Linked DNA regions of Homo sapiens: all the other regions are linked to region 1. Evidence: fine-mapped expression QTL. A gene starts in region 1. Each other region holds a variant in brackets. All regions are shown on one strand. Distances are from middle to middle. Region 1 holds the start of PLPP1 (phospholipid phosphatase 1). Region 2 overlaps PLPP1 (phospholipid phosphatase 1). Region 3 overlaps PLPP1 (phospholipid phosphatase 1).

Region 1 (8,531 bases):
TAGGATAATATTCAATATATTAGAAATATATTTTTTTCTGATCGAACATTTTCCTCTCCTTTCACTAAAATATAAACAAAGTTTAACAAAGTTCCAATGACATCAAGTATAAGTTAAAATATATTTTTTAATGTAACATTTCTATGAAAGGTAATTTTTTGTTGCAAATAAATTTGAATATATTTAATTATTAATAAGTCCCGACATCTGAAAGGACTGTGTTTTTATAAAGACAGTGTTCAGTTGGGCGCGGTGGTTGACGCCTGTAATCCCAGCACTTTGGGAGGCCAAGGCGGGTGGATCACAAGGTCAAGAGTTCAAGGCCAGCCTGGCCAAGACGGTGAAACCCCGTCTCTACTAAAAATACGAAAGTTAGCCGGGCATGGTGGTATGTGCTTGTAATCCCAGCTACTCAGGAGGCTGAGGCAGAGAACTGCTTGAACCCGGGAAGCGGAGGTTGCAGTGAGCCAAGATCGCGCCACTGCACTCCAGCCTGGGCGACAGAGCAAGACCGTCTCCAAAAAAAAAAAAAAAAAGACAATGTGCCAAAATTGTGTTCCACTTTCCTAAACTTAATTCCTAAAACTCACTGTGGACCTAAACAGGAAGTGTCTTGGGAAACAACAAAGATGCTTCATATTAACAGGTAACAAAATGCAGTTTTAGGGCCCAGCGCTGTGGCTCACACCTGTAATCCCAACACTTTGGGAGGCTGAGACAGGCGGATCACCTGAGGTCAGGAGTTCGAGACCAGCCTGGCCAACATGGAGAAACCCTGTCTCTACTAAAAACAGAAAAATTAGCCAGGCATGGTGGCGGTGCCTGTAATCCCAGCTACTAGAGAGGCCAAGACAGGATAATCACTTGGACCCAGGCGGCAGAGGCTGCAGTGAGCCGAGATCCCGCCACTGCACTCCAGCCTGGGTGACAGAGAGAGACTGTATCCAAAAAAAAAAAAAAAAGATAACAAAATGGAATTTTTCCTTACAACAACAACAAAACCTGGTAACAGAATTTATAAGAATTCCACAAGATTGCAAGGGCCTAAATGACCCGGTTGGAAACTGGAGAGTGGAATAACTAGGAACTACTGGATTAAAACCGAGGGAATCTCCTGTCACTGAGAAACCATTACGCAGACTTCCATCCAGGTGGCTAAAGCCACAGATCTCCCACCCTGAGAACTTGCCAATACTACTACTATTCTGATTACTTCAACATGAGTAGGACTATCCAAACCTCCAGCAGCTCTTGCTTTGTTTTTGTTTATTCCATCATATATAAATAGTTCACAGCATAACTGCCTTATACAATACATAAAAAGTGAAAACTACTCCTTCCAACGCCCATCCCTTATCCAAATGATTCCAGTTCTTTCTCTTCAAAAGAAAGGAGTAACTGGCAACCAGAAGCCTCATAACTGAACTCTTCCAATCAGGAAGACAATGCGAAATCTGCTGCAGCCAAAGAATGTCTACTGCTCCTTGAGACACTGTCACAAGAGATGGAAAGCTACACCATGGCAAGGTCTGGGCAGACAAGGAAACAGGTCTGGGGTACCGCATCCTCCCCCACCCCCAAAACTTCTTTAGACCTATACGCAAAAACTTGGCGTGCTCATCCCTACTTGCAACCTGACAATTTACAACCTGGCACACCTTCTAATTAGGAACTAGTTCTAGCCTTTTATAGCCGAAATATTAAACTGCTTCTCACGATAAATCAGGCACTGGCGCCTGCTACTGAGAATCCCCTGTGCATCAAACCTCCAGTTTCACTACTGAGATGGGCCAGTGACCAGGCTCCTCTACCGTACAGAGGGGAGGAGCCCACCCTGCTCTGCTAGAGTGGAACTGCAAACAGAGGACAGGAGCAAGGTATGGAGCGCAGAGGCGTGAACAGCGTCCAAGCAGGGCTGGGCTCATCGCACCGGCGGGCGACAGACAGCGGCGGGCACGCGGGAGCCGGGGTGCAGGCTGCAAAGCGGGGTCCCTCGGCTGCAGAAGCCGCCCCCGTGTGTCGCCCCACAGCTGCGCACGCGTCAGGCAACACACCCCCGCTGCCCGTCGCGGCTCTGCGCTAAAGCCCTCCCGGGACAGCCGCACACGCCCCTCGGACCCGGCGGCGCGTACGTACCCAGCAACACGCAGAGCACATCGAGGGCCACGTACGGCAGCCGCGTCTTGTCAAACATGGTCTCTGCCCGGGCTGCCCGGCAAGGGCGATGGACTGAGCTGCGGGACGGCGGCCGAGGCCCTTGATTCTCGAGCCCGGGCCGGGGCTGGCGACGGCCCCGAGCTACGGCCCCTCCCAGCCGGAGGAGGAGAGCAGCCGAGGGCGGGCTGAGACCGGGCGGCGCTCCCACCGCCAGCAATGGCGCCCGGGGCCCTCCCCTCACAGCCCCCGCGAACACTCGGTTAGTGCCGAGGCGCTCGTGTGCCAGCCGCGGCAGCTCTGTAGCCTCAGGACCTCCTCAGCCGGCACGGCCTGCCCCGGTTGCTCCCCGTCCGGATCCCGGCGCTCTCTCCCACAGGCGGGGCGTCCAGACTCTCGCTTTAAGGATGGGGACCGGCAGGGAGGAGGAACGCGGGGTCCAGCCCCTCCCGCTGAGCAGCGCAGGACCGGGCAGCGCGCGGGTTCGCGGGCGGGGGGAGTGCAGCAGGGGCGGGGCCAGGGAAACCCCAGGCCGCGGCGGTCAGCCAATCAGCGCCGTCGGCCTCATCCCTCCCGACCTGCGGCATCCGCCCAGAAGTGCGGCTCTCGGCAGCCGGGCGGGGCGTGGGGGCGGCTCCCGTTCCGATCCAGGGGGCTTTGCTCTGGACCGCAATTGCTCAGGTGGTCTCCGAACTCGGCCTCGGTACCCCCACTAGGCATTGCTGCTTTCAGAGAGCTAGGCTCCCTACCCAACGATCCTAGAGCACCGGCTGCCTGCCACTCCCCACCCCTTCCATGGGGATGAGGTAATAAACAGGTCAGATTGTTACCACTGAGTTTAAGGGGGGAAAAGAGGTCAGAGTAGGCAGGAACAGAGACGCTCTCCTTTAGTTTGGTACCTCTGAGCCCTTTCTCACTTAGGCCTCAACGTTGACCTCCCTGTGTCCTGGCTGAGCCCAAATGTTAGCAAGAAGCATGCTAAATCATCCATCCTCGATACCTGATCACCGTTGAATTCTTGATATTTAATATCGGATTAGATTCCTTATATTACACCTTTGTTGTAGAAGCCCTTGACCTGCCTTTAGCCAGAATCCCTCTACCCTTGATGTCTCCTCTTAGTAATTTTCCATCCACCGTCACCTCCCTCACAGACACGGTGCCTGTTCCTTGGCTATAAATCCCCTGCTGTCTTTGCTGTATTCTGAGTTGAGCTCAATTTCTCTCTCCTGTTCCAATAGTCATGACCCTTATTGTAATAATCTTGAATAAATTATTCATGTGTTTGACAAGTGTCAGGATAATTTTCTTTAACAGCAGCAAGCACTCCCCCTGCCCCATACCCAGGAGGACCCTAGCCCACATTTAGTAATCTCAGTTTCCTAATATGTAAAATGGGGATTTTTTAAATAAATACCTAATACTCAGACATCACAAGTACTTTGAATTTATTGTGACCTTGCAATCTGAGGCCCTTGTAACTCTGGAAGTAAAGAAAGCCACATGATAAACAATGGCCCATCTTTCTCAGGTGTAAATTGCTTAAAGCTTTTACAGCTTTAAGCTGCCCAGTGTTCCAGTCTGGAGGAAGAAGTGAAACCCAGAAAAGATTATATGATAGTGGCTTTATCTAGAGTTAAACCGTCTACAGATGTTAATGATTGGTATATTTTCTCTTTAAATATGTAAAACACAAATCACAAAATGTGCCTACTACTTCTTCGACTTATCCTGCAAAGCACTCATAAAGCCAATGGAAAGATAACATTAAACAGAGTCTGGAGATACAGCCCCAAGTAAGCTCTCAAAAACAAAATATACATTTGAAGAAAGATGTTTTTCTTTAAAACGAATGCTAATGTTTTATTTTGCCTCTTGTTTAAATAGCCGTAAAAGCTTTAAGCAATTTACACCTGAGAAAGATGTGCCATTGTTTATCATGTAGCTTTCTTTACTTCCAGAGTTACAAGGGCCTCAGATTGCAAGGTCACAATAAATTCAAAGTACTTGTGATGTCTGAGTATTAGGTATTTATTCAAAAAACATTTGTTGAGCACCTATTGTGTTACAGTCTAGTCTCAGTGTCTTAAACAGCTTTTGAAATATTTACTTTTTAAAAGTAATTTTTAAAAACATTTACTTTTTAAAAATTTTTTATTTTTACTTTTTGTGGGTACATAATAGGTGTATATATTTTGGGGTAATGAGATGTTTTGATACACGTATGCAATGTGTAATAATTACATCATGGAAAATGAGGTATCCATCCTCTCAAGCATTTATCCTTTGTATTACAAACAATTCAATTATACTCTTTTAGTTATTTTAAAATGTACAATTTAATTATTAACTATAGTGACCCTGTTGTACTATCAAGTACTAGATCTTATTCTTTCTATTTAAAAAAAAAATTTACTCTTAAAGTGCGTTTTCAAAAATAAGCATTCAAAAAAACCTTACTGATTAGTGATTTTTTGTTTATTCACACATTCATTAATTCAACATTTATTGAGCCCCTAATGGATACCTGGTACACATCTGTGAAGAAGCTAAAATAAACAAGAGAAGTTCTCTGCCCACAAGGGGAATCCTGAGGCCCACTTAGAAAGCATGTGATTAGGGCTGGGCACGGTGGCTCACGCCTGTAATCCCAGCACTTTTGGAGGCCGAGGCGGGTGGATTACGAGGTCAAGAGATCGAGACCATCCTGGCCAACATGGTGAAACTCCGTCTCTACTAAAAATACAAAACTTAGCTGGGCATGGTGGCACGTGCCTGTAGTCCCAGCTACATGGAGGCTGAGGCAAGAGAATCGCTGGAATCCAGGAAGCGGAGGTTGCAGTGAGCCGGGATCATGCCACTGCACTCTAGCCAGCCTGGCAACAGAGCTAGACTCTGTCTCAAATAAATAAATAAATAAATAAATAAATAAATAAATAAATAAAATAGATTAATAAACCAAAGCCCATTAAAATGCATTGTCATTTCCTGTTATTTTAAATGGGACTTGTGCCATGTGCAGATTATAAGCAATTAATAAGGCCAGGCACGGTGGCTCACTCCTGTAATCCTAGCAATATTTGGGAGGCTGAGGCGGTCGGATCACTTGAGGTCAGGAGTTTGAAACCAGCCTGGCCAACATGATGAAACCCTGTCTCTATGAAAAATACCAAAAAGTAGGCTGGGCGCTGTGGCTCGCGCCTGTAATCCCAGCATTTTGGGAGGCCGAGGCAGGCAGATCACCTGAGGTGGGAGTTCGAGACCAGCCTGACCAACAAGAGAAACCCTGTCTCTAATAAAAATGCAAAGATTAGCCAGGCCTGGTGGCACATGACTGTAATCCCAGCTATTTGAGAGGCTGAGGCAGGAAAATCACTTGAACCCGGGAGGCAGAGGTTGCGGTAAGCCAAGATTGCGCCATTGCACTCCAGCCTGGGCAACAAGAGTGAAACTCCATCTCAAAAAAAAAAAAGAAAAATACAAAAAAGTTAGCCAGGCATGGTGGCAGGCACCTGTAATCCCAGCTACTCGGGAGGCTGAGGCAGGAGAATCGCTGGAACCCAGGAGGCGGAGGTTGCAGTGAGCCAAGATCGCACCACTGCATTCCAGCCTGGGTGACAGAGGGAGACTCTGTCTCAAAAAAAAAAAAAAAAACAATTAATAAGCCCTTATTTGTGGAAAGAATGACTATGACACATCATTTTGTTTTGGAATGGGGAGCTTTCATTCCTTTTTGGGGGAATTTTTTTGTTTGACTGTTTTGGTTTGTTGTCATAATTGAATTCTGGTGTGATCATTGGAATTGAGAATGAGTTAAATAACTTTGAAATGGTGATGAAAATAATTTAAAAAGGAAACACGAATTAAATGGTAACACCATTAATACCCCCGGGGGAGGGGGGCAGCTATGAGTGTGTCCCTGGACTGAACATGAAACCTCAGAAGCGAGAGCACTGACTCCATTTCTCTGGAGTTTGTGCATCCCAGAAAAAAATACTTTAAAAAAATAAAGAAAGAAACCTCAGAGGCTTGCATAAATGCTTAACAAAGTTTGTCCTTGGGCCAAACTTTTCTCCCTGTAATACAGGCATCAAACAAAAGCAAAGTAGGGTGGGCTTCCGAAGAACAGTCCTGAAGCTCCCTGAAGAAGAAAGAAGCTAATTTCCTCTCTTCTGTCATTACTAAACTTCTTGAAAAGGAATCTGCAATTTACATGCTGCATTTCCACTTTCTCTTTCGATACCTCTGCATGCTCAATTCTGTCCCCACTCCTCTACTTGCACTGCTCTTTAACATAATATTATTGGTAAGTCTCCCTCTCTCCATTCTAACAGCACTTACTGTCTCAGCAACTTATTTATTTCAAAAATTGTCTGCAAAGTAATAAGACTCAATTCCCTTAGGATATTTGTGTTTCCATGTGTTTATGTTCTTTCTCCCCAAATTGACTGAAGCAAATACAGTTTCTATTATACTCAAATAGCACTGTGAAACTAAAATAACTAAAAATGTCGATGTCTGGTTCCCCAGTACATGTGCTCCAAAAAGAAAATTTCACAGGATGGTGTATTTTAATCCTTTTTACACTTTTTGTCAAAGCCATTTGCTTCATACCTTATTAAAGTTTTTAATCGGCCGACCACGGTGGCTCAACGCCTGTAATCCCGATACTTTGGGAGGCCGAGGCGGGCCAAGATGGTGAAACCCCATCTCTACCAAAAATACAAAAATTAGCGGATGTGGTGGCACGCGCCTGTAATCCCAGCTACTTGGGAAGCTGAGGCAGGAGAATCACTTGAACTCGGGAGACGGAGGTTGCAGTGAGCCGAGGTGGTGCCACTGCACTCCAGCCTGGGCGACAAAGCGAGACTCCATCTCAAAAAATAAATAAATAAAAATAAAAATAAAATAAAAATTTTAATCATGTAATGTTTGATACATAAATATATAACATATAAATAAGTTATGAAAGGCCAGGCGTGGTGGCTCACGCCTGTAATCCCAGCACTGTGGGAGGCCGAGGCAGGCAGATCATTTGAGGTCAGGAGTTCGAGAGCAGCCTGAGCAACCTGGTGAAACCCCGTCTCTACTAAAAATACAAAAAAATTACCTGGGCATGGTGGCACATACCTGTAGTCCCAGTTACTGGGGAGGCTGAGGCAGGAGAATCGCTTGAACCGAGGAGGCAGAGGTTGCAATGAGCCAAGATCCTGCCACTGCACTCCAGACTGGGTGACAGAGCGAGACTCCGTCTCAAAAAAACAAATAAATAATAATAAGTTATGAGGCATAATAAAATGGGCAACTATGAATCTACAATTCTATTCAACTGAACACCTGGATCATTGCAGAATCTTTGAAAGCACCTGAATTCTATATTTACCTTTCCCTAGCTTTGTTTTTTCCATATCGTTTAACCACGTGCATATGTATCTCTAAAAATATATATTGTTTCACTTGCTTGTTTTTTAGCTTTTAAAAATATTATGCCATAGATTTAATCTTCTGCCCTTGATATTTTTTCACTCAATTATATTTCTTACATTCATTCATGCTGCTGCAATAGTAGGTCTGTCATATGAATACATCATTTTGTTCATTCTTCTGACAATAGTCATCGGGGTTTTCATTTATGCAAATAATGCTTGCTGCAGGCATTTGTGTACATGTCTCTTGTGTGGAATTACTAGCTGCATTTTGTAGTATGTCCACATTCAACTTCATGAGATAATCTCAGATTGTTTTACTAAATGGTTATACCATTTCATCCACACCCCCACTAGTGGTGGATGAAACTCCACATTCTCATCAATGCAATATTCTGAGACTTCTTAACTTTTGCTAATTTAGTAGGTATAAATGTGTATCTCAATGTAGCCTTAATTTGCATTTCCCTGGTCACTAATGTGGTTGGATGTCTTTCCCTAAATGTATTCACCAAAAATGTTTCCTCTTCTATTAACTGCCTGTTCATGTCTTTTGCCATTTTTCTGTTGTGTTTTCTATTTTTTTTTTTCATTTTTCTATTGTTTTCTATTGTATATCTTATTCTTATTTAATTGTGGAAGTTATTCATATGCTCTTCATAGTAATTCTTTGTGTGGTAAATTTTTTCTCCGAGTATGTGGCTTGTCATTTCACTTCCTTTATTAGCAGCTGTGTGATAGAGTTCTTGTAAATGTAATGTAAGCAGATATCTACTGGCAGGTTTCTTTAACGTTTTTGCTTTCCTGACCAAAGGAAAAGGCTGAATTCCCTTCCCTTCCTTTCTACCTTCTTTGAACATGGACCTGATATCTAGAGCTACAGCAGCCATCTTTTGATTATGAGGGACAGACCAAGAAATGCAGTGTCACTGGTCTTTATAATGTTGAGCT
Region 2 (5,000 bases), 96 kb before region 1:
AATTTCATAACAGGCGGTGATATAAACAATCTGGGGTTACAGCCTCAATAGAAGGGTCTCAGGAAAAGTATTTTAACACTCCTCACTGTATTGAAAGAAAATACAGACTCATACCATGGCTGTTCTCCTGAATAATCAAATAAATTTGGAATCTCTGGCATTCAGCCAAGTTCACGGGGAGTCACTAAGCATATAAACTGGCTATGTGCAAAGCAGCCCTGCCCTGAGCTCCCGCAGGCCTGGGAGGTTTTCACTGATGCTGACACTCTCTTGGCACAGTTAAGTGTGCAGGGCTGCACTGGCTGCCAGAGAAGAACAATGGTCAGGGTGTTTTAAGAGCCATTTTTAACTAGAAGTTAATTTCTGGGTGTCAGGAATTGACAGAGAAGTTTTGGCTATCAAAGACTGTCCTAGGAGAGGATTTAAATGACTACGTCTCTACCCAAATCTGAGACTGACTCATGAAGCCAAGGTGCCCAGAGAAACAAGATGAGTCATTGCTCAAGGAATTCGGGGGTGGGGCTTAGAGGTTAAATGTTGTACATAGGCCAGGCGCGGTGGCTCACGCCTGTAATCCCAACACACTGGGAGCCCGAGGCAGGCGGATCACGAGGTCAGGAGATTGGGACCATCCTGGCTAACACGGTAAAACCCTGTCTCTACTAAAGATACAAAAAATTAGCCGGGCGTGGTGGCGGGCGCCTGTAGTCCCAGCTACTCTGGAGGCTGAGGCAGGAGAATGGCGTGAACCCGGGAGGTGGAGCTTGCAGTGAGCCGAGATCGCGCCACTGCACTCCAGCCTGGGTGAGAGAGCAAGACTCCGTCTAAAAAAAAAAAAAAAAGTTGTACATAAATGTAAAAAGCAAGGATCTGTGTATTCAGGGCTGAAATAAAAGCTGGGGCCTACATCCACATCAAGCAAATATTTCCACTACCTAGAGTCAGTAAAATGCAGTGCATGGTTGCTCTGGCCTGCTTTCTTCTCCAGAAAGGTCTTGGTCTACAACAAATCTATTTATCTAGGCTTCTTTTTTTGCCATTATAACTTTACATCTGTTAAATCAAACTAAAATCTGTCCTGAAAACCCCCTGCTCACATACTTGAGTTCTTCTGTACAAAGAACAACCTAATTTGGTAAGTAAGCAAACTGGGAGCCTGACTCAGGAATGTGCTTCTGTAACAGCAGCTGAGTCTCAGCCAGTCCCTGCAGCCATATTTCAACCACTCACAGCCATTCAAACCACGCTCAAATAAAGCTCCAAGGCCGAGCTGTAACCAATCCGGCAGTTTCTGCACCTCGCTTCCATTTTCTGTACTCACTTTCCTTTTTCTGTCCATAAATTCTCCCTGACCACTTAGAAGCAGTGGAGTCATTCTGAATCTGCAGTGACTCTGAGGGCTGCCCAATTTGAAAGTCGTTTCTTCCTTGCCCAGTGACACCCTTAAATTTATCTAAAGTTGTTCTTTTAACACAGTTGGTTCAAACTGACCCAATTACCACACTATGGTTGACATCATTTTCCCGAGTTGATATCCTTCATATGTGGCTGCATGTCCACTGAGCAGGCCTGCCACTGAGGCCCTCTATTATATCAATGTCATCCTCTCTATAGTAATTTTAATCTTTCACAAAACAGCCCTCAGTACAAGTTACTATTTGACCAATTACACAGACGTTAATGGGTGTTTTGAGAAGGGTCAAGGAAGAAGAGCAGAAAATGATGAAGTATGGAATATGTTATAGCTGAGAATTTTCTTTAAAATTACAAACAGTGGGTCAAAGTTATGTGTCAGTCACTTCCAGAATGCCATTTTACTTCCAGAGATCTGCATGAGCTGACCTTCAAAATAAATGGACTAGGGTTCAGACCAAGTAATCAATCAATCAATACAGCATGGGATCCTGATTATCAAGAAACCCCACAGAGCTCACAGAACTCAGCAGCCCCCTCCCAAGGTGCCTATTCCCTCACTTGTAAAACAGTGGCAGTCATCCCTCATCTTTTCATGGAAATTTAGTCAAAAATAAAAGTAGTGTAAAATGCAAATCATCATCAAGATCAATCAAAACTCAGATTTCTAGATTTCTCATAAAGAGGGACTTGGACACTAACACAGACAGGTGAGCGAAAAACAAACCACAATAGCTAGTGAGACAAAAGCTAGACCTAGTGAGGTCTAGCCCAGGGCATACAAAGCACGCCCACACATTCAAACGCCCTTCAGTCCAGTCACAGGCCCATGCTCTGGGAAGAGCTCTCAGGATAGTAACGGCTCTAGCTATTGCTCAGCCTTCCGGGTCTGCCCTGGTCCTCGTGCTCTAATTAAAAAGAAAAAAATATGTTGTCTCACTTAAGAAAGAATGCTGATTTTTTTCTAATATGATAAATGAACAGAAGATGTCAGAATAGTATTTTCTGCTAACTACCTTCAGATAAGTCACATTTTCCATGCTGCATCTGCAGAAACATTTGAGTGTGTGTCTTAAAAAGGAAGCCCTAAATTCTGCTGAATCATACTCTGTGCTTCTTCACAAAATTTAATTAATGTAAGATGAAAGCTTTGAAAATTAGCTGTTGTAATGGCTTGAGGTTCTGACTTTGAATTTTATATAACACATCTACAATTTACATATTCTTTTAATGTTTGGAATTTGTTTTTTCAAATAAAAGCAAGATTCTAGTAAAACATTTTAAATTATCTCTGAGACTAATTCCCATTAGTTTACCCTTAATGTTACATATTGTGCATTTTAAGTCTAAGCATTAAATTATCATACGGCACTTAATGTGATCAAAGGGAAAAACACAGGAAATGACAAATTTACACAGAACACAACTGTATAAAAATCCCCTTATAAAGAAAATTAAGACAAAAATTATAGCTGATCTATTAGGGTACAGATTTTCTAACCCTCCTCTCTGTTCCCCCTAAATAATGATAATGCAGGACATATTAATACACCCA[AAT/A]ATATAGTGTTTTATTAATACTTTATATGTAAAGAGAACATTATAAAAAAATAAAAATCAAGTAAAATTGACCTTTAAAAATCCCTTGAATGTGTCCTGAAGCCTGGTCTTGCATTAGTTACTCTCAAAAAACTACATATTCATCTCTAGTTTGATAATGCAAAATGTGGGTGCAAATCTTCGTAAGGCCTCACTGCCAGCTTTGTATGATGCAAATGCAAATTGCTATGCTGCTGCTCTACAGGTTGGCATCAGAACTGGACCTGGAAGTTGTATAGATGACAGGCTCCAGAAGTGGCAACTGCCTTTCCCAGCAGTTGAAACCTTTCTGGTCCCTTGCAGAGCACTCTGGGAATGTTTTAGAAAATGGGAGGAAAACAAAATCTGCTCAAATAGGAACAAGGACAGCTGCCTTCACTTAACAATGATCAAAACCCAACTCCTCACCACAGCAGAGCCCAGAAGGAAAGAAGCTCTGCTGCTGTTCGCCCACACTGAGCAGATGAGGAGAGTGGCTCCCAGTTAGGGAGGAGGTTAACAAGCAACAGCAGCCTGTTGTCCCAGTCCTTCAGATTAGTTACCTGCTGTGATTACACAGAAGCTGTGTTCCAGAAAACCACTTCAGGAAACGTCCCAAAGTAAGGGCACACATCAACTACTTCTCAGTATGAAACTTACAGATTTGCAGATCATCTGTTTCACCTTTTGCTACTGGCTAATTTATTAGGACAGGTGAGGACACTGATGCTGAGCACATTAATTCCATGCAGCACATAACCTAACCGTCAACAGACACAAAGTACTTACTGCCACAAACAGCATGCAGTACATGGAAAACGAAGAGTGGCCTGAATAGAAGGACAACCTGGAAGAAAAAGAAGACAAATGTTACTTTTCTCTCTTAGGAGCCAAAAGTATTGTTGATTTCATAAATCTGCTCCTTAGTTTCAGAGTGTACACAACTGCCTCCCTCTACTTTGAGAAATTAGAAGGGTACGGCAGGGGGACAATTAGGACATGAACATTAAAGAGTGCAAGAAGGATCTGAGGTCAGATCTCTATACAGTATCATTTTATTGAAACCTTCAGGATGGGTAATGTGTCATGAAAATAAACTTGCCAAGCAATTCTAAGATGTCAGAAGAATGATACTTGACAAGTCATAACTGGCACAAATTGCCTTGACTTTATTACATACACACTTATGTGACCATGATTTAAGTTTTATTTTCCACTTGCAGGATTAGTCCCTGAATAATGTCATACCTCCTTGGGAACACTCAGAAGTTGATTGCTTTTTTCCATCCATATTAATATTTTAGTATTTTGGCCCAGCGCAGTGGCTCAGTCCTGTAATCCCAGCACTTCAGGAGGCCAAGGCGGGCGGATCACGAGGTCAGGAGATCGAGACCATCCTGGCCAACATGGTGAAACCCCATCTCTACTAAAAACACAAAAATTAGCCGGGCGTGGTGGCGTGTGCCTGTAGTCCCAGCTACTCGGGAGGCTGAGGCAGAAGAATTGCTTGAACCTGGGAGGCAGAGGCTGCAGTGGGCCGAGATCGCACCACTGCACTCCAGCCTGGGTGACAGAGGGAGACGCCATCTCAAAAAAAAAAAAATTTGGTGTTTTAAATGGGCACACATCTTGCCTTACATTTCCCACCAAATTCAGTGCTTTTGTTTCTTTCAATATTAGAGTCTATAAACATCTAAGTATCATCTTCCCCACCTAAAAATGACAGAATGCTTACAAAACTTAATTTTGTGGCACTTCTGAGAAAAGAAAAATAGAGCTAACATTAAAGATCTAAGATTTGCTTATACAGAATGAGCCACTGATGCAGAAGAGGCAAGCACATCAGGCACAGTGAAAGTATGCCACGAAAAGATGCTCATGCAAATAACTAGAATGCATCTCCCAACCACTTTTCCCTACGTAAGAATAAGAACAAAAACAAGAGGGACCGGCTCTTAAGTAATTTACTTATTACACTCTGCCTTGTTCAAAAGGAATTTAAGGGAGACGTT
Region 3 (5,000 bases), 90 kb before region 1:
CTTCACTGAAATGTTTAAGACTATGGCCCTGGCCTAAGAACCCTGCCCTTAGACTTTAACCAATTCTAGATTTTAACCAATCCTAGACTATCATCTCACTTCATTATAGCCTCTCTGATGAAGGCAAGTACAGTACAGTAACAATGTGAGCCAGCTTTCCAACCAAATCTTACGAAAATCTTCTCAGGAAGAAAATTTACGGAGAGAAAAATGTATTTTGAAATGCTGCTGTTTTCACTGACTCTGAGGGGTGGTCTACTGAACAATAAGCCAGCTTCAATTATTAAGTAAACTGATTTTGACTACATAAATCACTATGAATGGGATTCTATTTTGTGTGTGTGTGTGTGTGTGTGTGTGTGATGGAGTCTCGCTCTGTTACCCAGGCTGGAGTGCAGTGGCGTGATTTGGCTCACTGCCACCTCTGCCTCCTGGGTTCAAGTGATTCTCCTGTCTCACCCTCCTGAGTAGCTGGGACTACAGGTGCGCACCACCACGCCCAGCTAATTGTTGTATTTTTAGTAGAGATGGGGTTTCGCCCTGTTGGCCAGGCTGGTCTTGAACTCCTGACCTCAGGTGATCTGCCCGCCTCGGCCTCCCAAAGTACTGGGATTACAGGCGTGAGCCACCGCGCCTAGCCTGGGATTCTATTTCAAATGGCAACTTTATGATGTTTTTTTCCTCACATTTGCCAGCCAGGGCACCCCCTTCTCAGAGCTGATTAAACTTGGCCTGATCCCCAATATCATGGCATTGAGAGCATTCATAGCCATCTGCCTGCATCCGCCTGCCCCCATGCATGTGAGTTCCCTCCTCGACTGAGCATTCTTCTATCTCTGTGCTCCAACATCCACATCCATGTTCAGCCTCATAAATCGCAAAGACACAATCAAATCCATCCTTCATCAGCATCAAAAGCAATCAACTCATATAAAGCATATCTTAATTTAGTATTTTGGGGCTCAGAAGGAGGTTAAATCACAAAGAACCCAGCTGATCATCTCTGATCTCTTCCCACCACCTGACTTTCTTCCTTTCCTCCTCCCTACTCTCCAAAGTTAAAAAGCACAAAACAGATACATCTTTAGCTGTTTTCATTTGAAATATCTTTATTTTGCATTCACTCTTTTTTTTTTTTTTTTTTTTTTTTTTTGAGACAGAGTCTCACTCTGTCACCCAGGCTGGAGTTCAGTGGCCCAATCTGAGCTCACTGCAACCTCCGCCTCCTGGGTTCAAGCAATTCTCCTGCCTCAGCCTCCCAAGTAGCAGGGATTAGAGGCGCCTGCCATCATGCCTGGCTAATTTTTGTATTTTTAGTAGAGACAGGGTTTCACCGTGTTGCCCAGGCTGGCCTCAAACTCCTGACCTCGAGTGACCTGCCTGCCTCGGCCTCCCAAAGTGCTGGGATTACAGACATGAGCCACTGTGCCCAGCCTACATTCATTCTTGAATGATGGTATTCCTGAGTACAGAATTCTAAATTGATGACTTTTTTTCTCATCGCTTTGAGGCTATCATTGCGCTATCTTCTGGCTTCTGCTTTTGCTGTTAAAATATAAGCCATCTGTCAGCCAGTTCTTTCTGGGTAATCTGTCTTTTCTCTGTAACTGCTTCCTCTCCTCCTGCCCCCATCAATCAATATTCTAGTTTTACTGCATTGTGTCTAGTACTAGGATTTCCTTTTATTGCTCTAGTTTAGTATTCATTGGCTTCTTCTATCTGAGGACTCACCAATTTGTAGAAGTCCTCAGCCACCTTTGCATACTGGGCATCCTCCATCCTCGTACCTTTCTATGGGATGCTGATTCAACACGTAAGACCTTTGCATTCTATTCCTCCAGATCTCTTACCCTTTCTTCTCTATTTTTCATCTAGGTCTCTTTAGGTGTATCTTTCATTTTGTCATCCCTTTCACTGTATCTAATCTGCTTAATCAATATGTTACACTGTAAATTTTAAATTACCATATATGTATCATTTACAAATCCCTTTGGTTCCAAACCTACTTGGCCAACTTTGATTCTCTTCATCCCACATCATATTTTCTATCTCCTCTTATTTTAGTCTACACCTGGTAATTCTAATATCTGTAATCTCTTTGAGAGTTTAGGTAATTTGTTGTATTTGCTGACTGTCTCAGGGTAGCTTGTTTCCACATAGGTCCATTTATATTAGAATGAAGTCATTAGGACTCTATCTGAGGGGAATCTTTGAGCCTTGGTTTAAGGAGAGTTCCTCCAGAGAAGGTATGTGTTCACTTATGCTGGGTTCACTACCAATACACTTTAAACTTCAAGCTTTTTTTCCTTTTCCTTCCTAAACCAAATAGTATGAATTCTTGCTCCAGACCAGTGTGAGTGTGGTCCTGTGTTTAAGAATTCTTTTTAATAGCTCCCACGGGGAGGATGCTGCCACTCTTCGGGAGTTCTCACATTATCCACATGTCTTTTATGTCCTCTTCCCCGGCCTCAGCCTTTATATCTGTGCCCCATGTTCACTGCCTATCAAAACTCAGTGTCTATGCCACCAGGAACCGGCAGATACTTTCAAGGACCACACTGGATCTACAGCACTAACTGACGCAGGCCTCAGAAAAATCCCTTTACTCTCCCACCAGCTAAACTATTTACTAAAAACACTTAAATGTGTTTCAAGATGTGTATATATAATTTAAGATACAGTATACACAAGTGTGTGTGTAAC[G/A]TATCATGTAGCACGTTTAGCTGAACTATTATCAGTAGGCACTTCTAATCCTCCATGTTACCAGAAATAGAAGCAGGCTTTTTTAAAAGAACACTTAGAACTAATGAAATGCTATCTAAAATCAGTCACTTTACTAACAGACAAAATAGTTTCAGCAACAGCGGTTTGTTTTTAATTATACAGTGACCAATGCTCAAAAATGTTTCAAATTATTACTATACCACCATTTCCCCCAGGTATGCCAAAGTTGGTTCTGCTACAAATTAGAATTTCCTTTTTCCCCTAAAAATCATCCTGAAATTGATTCCCAAAGCATTATAAGGCAGAAAGGTTGTTTAAAGACTTATAATTGTTACAAGTTACTGAGTATGTTCAGGTACTTAATACACAGCGTTTCTACTTTCACAAAAACTCTCGTGCTCACACAGAGATAATGATTCTCAGACAGGTTCAGTAACTTGCTCGAAAAGTCACGTCTCTGCAGCTCAAATCTGAGTCTTCCCAACTCTTTCTGTGCCATGATTTCACTCTTGTCAATGGTAGACAGACAAAGAGGAACTTTAATCCTGCCATCTCCAGGCAGGGGAGTTCCATCACAAAGTACAGTTTACATGTGGCAAAATGTGTAAAGTAAATATACGAAGAAGAAATTAGACTTAATCCATGAAGAAATAGATGTTGTCAATGTAAAAATTGTCTTCTTTAGAGACAGGGTCTCGCTCTGTCACTCAGGCTAGAGTTCAGTAAATAATCATTTTAAGTGAATACCAATTTGTCTTTTTTGTACACTCTAAATGCAAAAAAAAGGAAATCAAACCATAACGAGGCATTTTCTCAAATGTTATTTCCTGATTATAAAGTTTATATAACAGCAGATTAACCTGAAGTATAGCATAAGTTCCCCTCTCTGATAATCTGTAAACATGGACTGATCCTATAAAAAAGTTAAAATGTCCTGTACAAATGCTACAAATGGATATATGAGCAATGACCTCTTAATGAACATAAACTTTTCCTAAGTATATTAGTCATAGTTTATTTCAGAAAGATTTTGACAATCGATAACTGTGCTAAATGATTTGGCAATGAGATATCAGATTATTATCTACAAGAATCTCACATCTAAGATACTTAAGGAATCAAGTAGGTGATGAATGAGAAAATGAGCACTCTCATATTGCACACTTTCTGGAGGATGGTTTGGAAATATCAATCAACATAGGAAAAATGTATTATGTGACCCAGTAATTCCACTTTGAGGTATGTCTCCTAGAGAAATGCAGACGTTTACTGCAACACTGCCGGAAACTCAAGGACCCAAGGAAGATTCTAGCACCTTTTTTTTTTTTTTTTTTGACAGAGTCTTGCTCTGTCGCCCAGGCTGGAGTGCCGTGGTGCAATCTTGGCTCACCACAACCTCCACCTCCTGGGTTCAAGCGATTCTCCTGCCTCAGCCTCCCAAGTAGCTAGGATTACAGGCGTGCGCCACCACACCCAGCTAATTTTTGTATTTTTTGTAGAGATGGAGTTTCACCATGCTGGCCAGGCTGGTCTCAAACTCCTGACCTCAGGTGATCCACCCACCTCAGCCTCCCAGAGTGTTGGGATTACAGGCATGAGCCTCCGCACCCAGCCGATTCTACTAGCATTATTCTGAATACTGTCGCCCCATGGTATCTGTGGGGAACTGGTTCCTGGACCTTCCAAGGATACCAAAATCCATGGATGCTCAAGTCCCTGATATAAAATGACACAGTATTTGCATATAACCTACACACATTATCCCATATACTTTAAATCATCTCTAGATTACCTCCAATACCTAATACAACGTAAATGCTATGTAAATAGTTGTCCTACTGTATTGATTAGGGAATAATGGCAAGAAAAAAGTCTGTATACGTTCAGTACAGATGCAATTTTTTTCACAAGTATTTTCAATCCACAGTTAGTTGAATCCACAGATATGGAGAACTGATTGTACAACATATTAACTAAAATGAATAGCTCTATGTGAACTGATACAAGCTGTGTCTCCAAGACATATTTTAAATGTTACTTATTTAATCCACACAAACTATACAATTTCACATTCAATATAAAAATACATAGCAAAATGACTGAAAGGAAATACAAACTATTAACAGCAGCTCCAGGGAAAGGTATCAAATGGGGGTTAAACTAAACTTTCACATAACACGGTGATAATACTGGAAACACAACTTGATGTAAAAGGGATAATATATATGTGACAATATTTTAAAGTAATGGTTGTCAAAATATCTGACATGCCTGCT

The links. PIP is the estimated chance that this variant, and not a neighbour inherited with it, causes the effect.
Region 2: its variant is the best candidate, but not a certain one, in a credible set for the expression of PLPP1 in whole blood (TOPMed, PIP 0.83).
Region 3: its variant is the best candidate, but not a certain one, in a credible set for the expression of PLPP1 in lymphoblastoid cells (TwinsUK, PIP 0.62).

The regions. Positions count from the first base shown.
Region 1 is chr5:55,532,436-55,540,966 of GRCh38, forward strand. It overlaps PLPP1 (phospholipid phosphatase 1), which reads right to left and starts at 2,529. Exons shown (of 6, transcript NM_003711.4): 1 at 2,137-2,529. The coding sequence starts at 2,194. It also overlaps the pseudogene RNF138P1. RefSeq lists a silencer at 2,112-2,751 and an enhancer at 2,982-3,051.
Region 2 is chr5:55,438,074-55,443,073 of GRCh38, forward strand. It overlaps PLPP1 (phospholipid phosphatase 1), which reads right to left. Exons shown (of 6, transcript NM_003711.4): 4 at 3,778-3,835. Among named protein-coding and RNA genes, the nearest start is that of MIR5687, 68 kb to the right of the region's middle. RefSeq lists enhancers at 64-891, 3,382-3,920. The variant AAT/A (reference allele first, on the strand shown) is at 2,969.
Region 3 is chr5:55,444,410-55,449,409 of GRCh38, forward strand. The region is part of intron 3 of PLPP1 (phospholipid phosphatase 1); the gene reads right to left. Among named protein-coding and RNA genes, the nearest start is that of MIR5687, 62 kb to the right of the region's middle. The variant G/A (reference allele first, on the strand shown) is at 2,704.